Regions from separate parts of the Homo sapiens genome. Here region 2 is linked to region 1. The links come from fine-mapping of genetic effects on plasma protein levels. Region 1 holds a variant in brackets. A gene starts in the other region. All regions are shown on their forward strands.

Region 1 (2,910 bases):
GACTCCAAAAGTCCTAGGATTAAGGGATCCTCTCATCTCAGCCTCCCGAACAGCTGAGACTAAAGCCAAGAGCCACCATAGCTGGCCATATGCTTAAGTTTTGACAAATGTTACCTTTTCATAATAGACTTGTGTATATTTTATGGCAGTAAATAAAAGACTAGTATCCTCATATATTTTATGTATTCATGACATACCTAACATTTTCTGCAGACTTTGGGTGATAATGACAAGTCAACGTAGACCCACTGACTGTGGGCAGATGCTAGGAATGGAGGAGGCTGTCTGAGGAGAGGGTACATGGAGAATCTCTGTACTTTCCTCTCAATTTAGCTATGAAGCTAAAACTGCTTGCAAAAACAGCGTTTATAAATTTTTTTGAGACAGAGTCTCGCTCTGTCGCCCAGGCTGGAGTGCAGTGGCGCAATCTCAGCTCACTGCAAGCTCCGCCTCCCGGGTTCACGCCATTCTCCTTCCTCAGCCTCCGGAGCAGCTGGGACTACAGGTGCCTGGCGCCATGCCCGGCTAATTTTTTTGTATTTTTAGTAGAGACGGGGATTCGCTGTGTTAGCCAGGATGGTCTTATCTCCTGACCTCGTGATCCGCCCGCCTCGGCCTTCCAAAGTGCTGGGATGACAGGCGTGAGCCACTGTGCTGGGCCCAAAATGTATAAATTTTTTAAAAAATGGGAGCAAGCATGGGCTCAATTAATTCCAACGGTCAACGCTGCCAAATTACTAAGATTTCTCTTGCCCTAAGGCACTTATCTCACCAACCTCAGCTTCTTTTTTCTTCGCACGAACTTTTTCCACTTCCATAAGAATCTTCTGGGATTCATCCACATTACCTTCAGCCCCTAGCTGTTCGGCTTTAGCAAGGAGTTTTCCTATTTCTTCATTTAACTCATGTACTTTTTCTGCCTGTGAGGAGAAAGAATGAGGTAAGCAGACATCTGAAAATGAAAGTGAATGCAAAGGCAACAAGGGTTTCTCCTGCTCCATTTCCAGTCTGAAAATAAGTGGAAGAGCTAAAGATCCACACTTAACAATGAAGGCATCCTTACTGCCAGCATTGAGACTGTAACCATAAACGAGTCCTATGTTCCAATGAAACCAGTGGCACCTTTGTCACTTCCGACATGCTTCCAAGGATCATCACAGATTGGTCATTGTCTAGGCTGTCTCTCTTTATGACTTTTTCTTCTGGGTATGGTAATAAAATGCCTAGGTTTAAATGTACAGATTTAAGCTGTAACCAAAATACCTAATTACTAGGATTTACCTTCTGAAACAAAATAGCACCGTTGGTCAAATTAGCAATTGCATAAATCCTAAGAAATGCTTTTACAACACTGAAAAGAAAAAACAAGGAGAGGCTTAGTTCCACTGAAGAGAAAAACAGAAGAGTGATGTAAATGGCACTCAGTCTAATTACATATAAATCTACCTCCTTTTCATTCTATGATATGGATGTACCACAGTTTGACCATTTCCT[T/A]ACCAATTCTTTCCAGTTTTATGTGGAGATATTAAAGTTTAAAACAACATGCAGAGGCTGGGCATGCTGGCTCACACCTGTAATCCCAGCACTTCGGGAGGACAAGGCGGGAGGATTGCTTAAGCCCAAGAGTTCCAGACCAGCTTGGGCAACAGACTCCATCTTTATTAAAAAAAAAAAAAAAAAAAAAAAAGATGGCTGGGTGCAGTGGCTCATGCCTGTAATCCCAGTACTTTGGGAAAACGAGGCGGGCAGATCACGAGGTCAAGAGATCGAGACCATCCTGGCTAACACAGTGAAACCCCGTCTCTACTAAAAATACAAAAAATTAGCTGGGCGTGGTGGTGGGCACCTGTAGTCCCAGCTACTCAGGAGGCTGAGGCAGGAGAATGGCGTAAACCCAGGAGGCGGAGCTTGCAGTGAGTCGAGATCACGCCACTGCCCTCCAGCCTGGGCGACAGAACAAGACTCTGTCTCTTAAAAAAAAAAAAAAACCGACAATAATTTTTTTTTCTTTTGAGGCAGGGTCTCACTCTGTTATCCAGGCTGAAGCAAAGTAGCATGATCACAGCTCATTGAAGCCTCAATCTCCCCAAGCTCAAGTGATCCTCCCACCTCAGCCTCCTGAGTAACTGGGATACACATGTGCACCACCAAGCCTGGCTAATATATGTATTTTTTGTAGAGATGGGGTTTCTTCATGTTGCTCAGGTCTAAAACTCCTGGGCTCAAGCAGTCTGCCCCCACCTTGGTGTCCCAAAGTGCTGGGACTACAAGCATAAGCCACCAAACTCAGCGAAGAATATATTAAAATTAAAAAATAATGATAAACCATGTACAGAGGACGAAAATGGAGAGAATAAAAAGACAGAGGTAGCAGCTCCTGAGGGATGAGAATTCCATGACACATGAATGCTTGATCACAGCCCTCTATCCTTAACTGGAGTAAGGCAGAGAGTACTGTCCACACAATCAGTGCTGAGGGTCAGTTAATAGCTATTGACAACGCCGGGCGCGGTGGCTCACGCCTGTAATCCCAGCACTTTGGGAGGCTGAGGCAGGCAGATCACGAGGTCAGGAGATCAAGACCATACCGGCTAACACGGTGAAACCCCGTCTCTACTAAAAATACAAAAAATTAGCCGGGCATGGTGGCGGGCGTCTGCAGTCCCAGCTACTCGGGAGGCTGAGGCAGGAGAATGGCATGAACCCGGGAGGCGGAGCTTGCACTGAGCTGAGATCATGCCACTGCACTCCAGCCTGGGTGACAGAGGGAGACTCCATCTCAAAAAAAAAAGCTATTGACAAGCCAGTATTTTTAAGAACACACCAGACACCGAAGCCACCCAAGCATACCTTTGCAGAAACTTCCGCACTGATTTCCTCCTGTGTTTCTGCCAGCCGCTTCTTGGCGAG
Region 2 (2,910 bases), not on the chromosome of region 1:
AGCTCAACCAAGCTGCAGGGACCCAGCCTCCTGAGAAAAGTGAATGTGAGCCCGGTGCATTCAGAGGAGAATGAAGCCTTCACCCAGAACACACTCTGGGAAGATGTCCCAGGCCCAGGGGGAGGGTTTGTACTACCAGACCTAAGTCACCTAAACTGACACCAAGTCTCATCCATCCCAACCATTCCATTCCGGGTCAGAGGGGTCATCGATTTAACCAGCAAGGCTGCCCATCCAACGGTTGCTCCCTCTGCTCCCTGGAAGGGCCTCCTCGTGGGCGTTCTGTACCTACAGGTCTTGTTCCGTTCTGGGAACTGCCAGTGGTGGCAAGAGGTGGAGCAACGGGTGCCAGGGCAGGGAGAGGTGAGTCTGGGAGGGAAGCAGAGGCAAGATCCATGGGGCTTTAGAGACTTTGCCAAAGCAGTGCGACTGCTCCCAGGTTGTTGTCAGCCGTCAAGAGTGAGTGCACCTCCCTGGGCAGACTTCTGCTGCCCCAGTGCCCAGGAATAGGCAGGGGTTTGCCGCAAAATGAATGACACCTGGCAGACAATAAGCTGAAGCTTTCATTAGCAGCTTAAGCTGAGGACTATCTATGCAACCGATACTCCCTGTGTGCTCCCCGGGACTGCTTAATGTGAGCCCTTGTGGAGCGATTGGCACCAAGAAAGCAAGGACTAAGTCAGAAGTTCAAGTCCCAGCCTTGCCACAGCCTCAGGGTGCCCTCGAGCACAGCAAGCCTCAGTTTTCCCATCTGTACAATGAGAGAGGTACACAAGGTAGACTCGAAGGCTCTTTGTTGCCAGGGCCCTGTGTTCCTTTGAGTGTATGTGCTTCTCAGGCCCACAGAGGTCCTTTGTGTTTCGTATGTGAACTGCTCTCTAGGAAACCCATGTAACTGTCTGTGTCCTGGGGCACATACATGAGGACTCATGTGGGCCGTATTGTGTGTTTGTGCCGGGGGGAGGGGAGACCCCAGAACAATGTCCCCCACCCCACCCCCCTCCTCAATAGGCGGAAGCCACTGGCTTCCTCCCTTTCCTGCCTCCTGCCTCCTTTGTGCCAGCAAGACTGAGTACTGGAGAGAGACAGGGGATGGGAAAAATCAGTCCAGCTGTCCCCAGGTCTGCCCTTACCATAACCTTCCCCCCACCTCAAGTGACTCCTCCCAGGCCACACCCATCCCCAGCCTTGTGGGGGCCAGATTGGGGGGCCTAGAGGCTCAAAGGCAGAATGAGTCCTCCCACCCCCTACCCTGCCACCCCTCCCACCCAAGCCACCTCATTTCCTCTTCCTCCCCAGCACCGACCCACACTGACCAACACAGGCTGAGCAGTCAGGCCCACAGCATCTGACCCCAGGCCCAGCTCGTCCTGGCTGGCCTGGGTCGGCCTCTGGAGTATGGTCTGGCGGGTGCCCCCTTTCTTGCTCCCCATCCTCTTCTTGGCTTCTCATGTGGGTAAGTCTCCCCTGAGTCCCTCACCCCATTTCTAGGCCCCGAGGCCCTGATTTCTACCCAAGAAACCCTATTTTATCATAGAGACAGAAAGTAGGATGATGGTTGCCATGGGCTGCAGGGAGGAAGAAATGGGGAGTTTTGTTTAAAAGGTACAGCGTTTTTACAAGATTTTTACTTGGTTTTACAAGATTAAAAGAGTTATAAACATGGGGCCGGGTGCGGTGGTTCATACCTGTAATCCCAGCACTTTGGATGGCTGAGATGGGAGGATCAATTGAGGCCAGGAGTTCAAGACCAGACTGGTCAACATAGTGAGACCCCGTCTCCATTGTGTTTAGACTTTCGTCTTTTTCAAAAAAAAAAAAAAAGGATGGATGGTGGTGATGGTGGGACAACACTAGGAATGTATTTAATCACATTGGGTTATATGCTGCTTACAAATGGTTAAGATGGCAAAATTTGCCGGGTGTGGTGGCTCACGCCTGTAATCCCGGCACTTTGGGAGGCCGAGCGGGTGGATCACAGGGTCAGGAGATCGAGACCAGCCTGGCAAACATGGTGAAACCCCATCTCTACTAAAAATACAAAAATTAGCCGGGCGTGGTGGCAGGAGCCTGTAATCCCAGCTACTTGGGAGGCTGAGGCAAGAGAATCGCTTGAATCTGGGAGGCAGAGGTTGCAGTGAGCTGAGATCGCGCCACTGCACTCCAGCCTGGGCGACAGAGCAAGACTCATCTAAAAAGAAAAAAAGATGGTAAAATTTATTTTATATGCATTTCACCACAACAAAAAATTTTGGAAAACAAGCCCTATCATCACTGCCATCACTTTGATCCACTAGAAAGTGAGATCAAGGCCAGGAAAACACAGGCAAGTGCTAGAAATCACTGCAACCTGGGATCAGGGGAGGAGTGAGGAGTAGCCGCTGACTGTGTTGGATCTGAGGATCTGTGGAGGGCCATTTTCAGGGGGTGTTCATAGGGTAATTGTGTTGGATTCACTCAGTTGTTCACTGGACAAACATTTATTGAGCACCAACAATATTCCAGGAGTTGTGCTAAGTGCTGGGCCATTAGTTGAGAGGCTGGCAACACCTAGTCTGTACAATGAGATTAAATGATGCCAGCCTCCTATGGTTGTTATGGGGTTTAAATGAGAAAATGATGCAGAGCAGTTGGCACAGTGCACTGTGCTTGGTAAGGATTTCTGAGTAGGTGGCAGCTGATTCCTTCAGTCTGCTGGTCAGCCGATTAGAACACAGAGGCTGCCTTTGAGTGGTTCATGGTCTAGTGCAGAACACAGGACAGGGGAAGAGGGCTAAACAGGGACAGACACAGGAGCTCTAGAGGAGCACTGAGGAGGAGTTCAGCTTACACTGCCTCAGGTAGGAGACAAAAAGGGAATCAAGGAAGATTTCACTAAGAGGGGTGGTCTTCATTCCAGGCAGCCAGAAC

Direction of the effects. Alleles are on the strand shown, and positions count from the first base shown. The strength of an association depends on the size of the effect and on how common the allele is.
In carriers of allele A in region 1, the plasma level of the protein whose gene starts at base 1,309 in region 2 tends to be higher than with T alone (weak association).

Evidence for each region. A credible set is the group of variants that fine-mapping cannot tell apart. PIP is the chance, under the fine-mapping model, that this variant and not a neighbour inherited with it causes the effect. Protein levels are from antibody-based Olink assays in UK Biobank. Linkage for the fine-mapping came from a reference panel and not from the study's own genotypes, which makes the PIPs less certain.
Region 2: TIE1 starts here. The variant in region 1 is the best candidate, but not a certain one, in a credible set for the plasma level of the TIE1 protein (UK Biobank, PIP 0.63).

The regions. Positions count from the first base shown.
Region 1 is chr16:205,228-208,137 of GRCh38, forward strand. LUC7L (LUC7 like) reads right to left here. Exons shown (of 10, transcript NM_201412.3): 4 at 2,851-2,910; 5 at 777-920. Among named protein-coding and RNA genes, the nearest start is that of LUC7L, 23 kb to the right of the region's middle. The variant T/A (reference allele first, on the strand shown) is at 1,495.
Region 2 is chr1:43,299,674-43,302,583 of GRCh38, forward strand. It overlaps TIE1 (tyrosine kinase with immunoglobulin like and EGF like domains 1), which reads left to right and starts at 1,309. Exons shown (of 23, transcript NM_005424.5): 1 at 1,309-1,456. The coding sequence starts at 1,399. RefSeq lists a silencer at 1,149-1,248 and an enhancer at 1,279-1,368.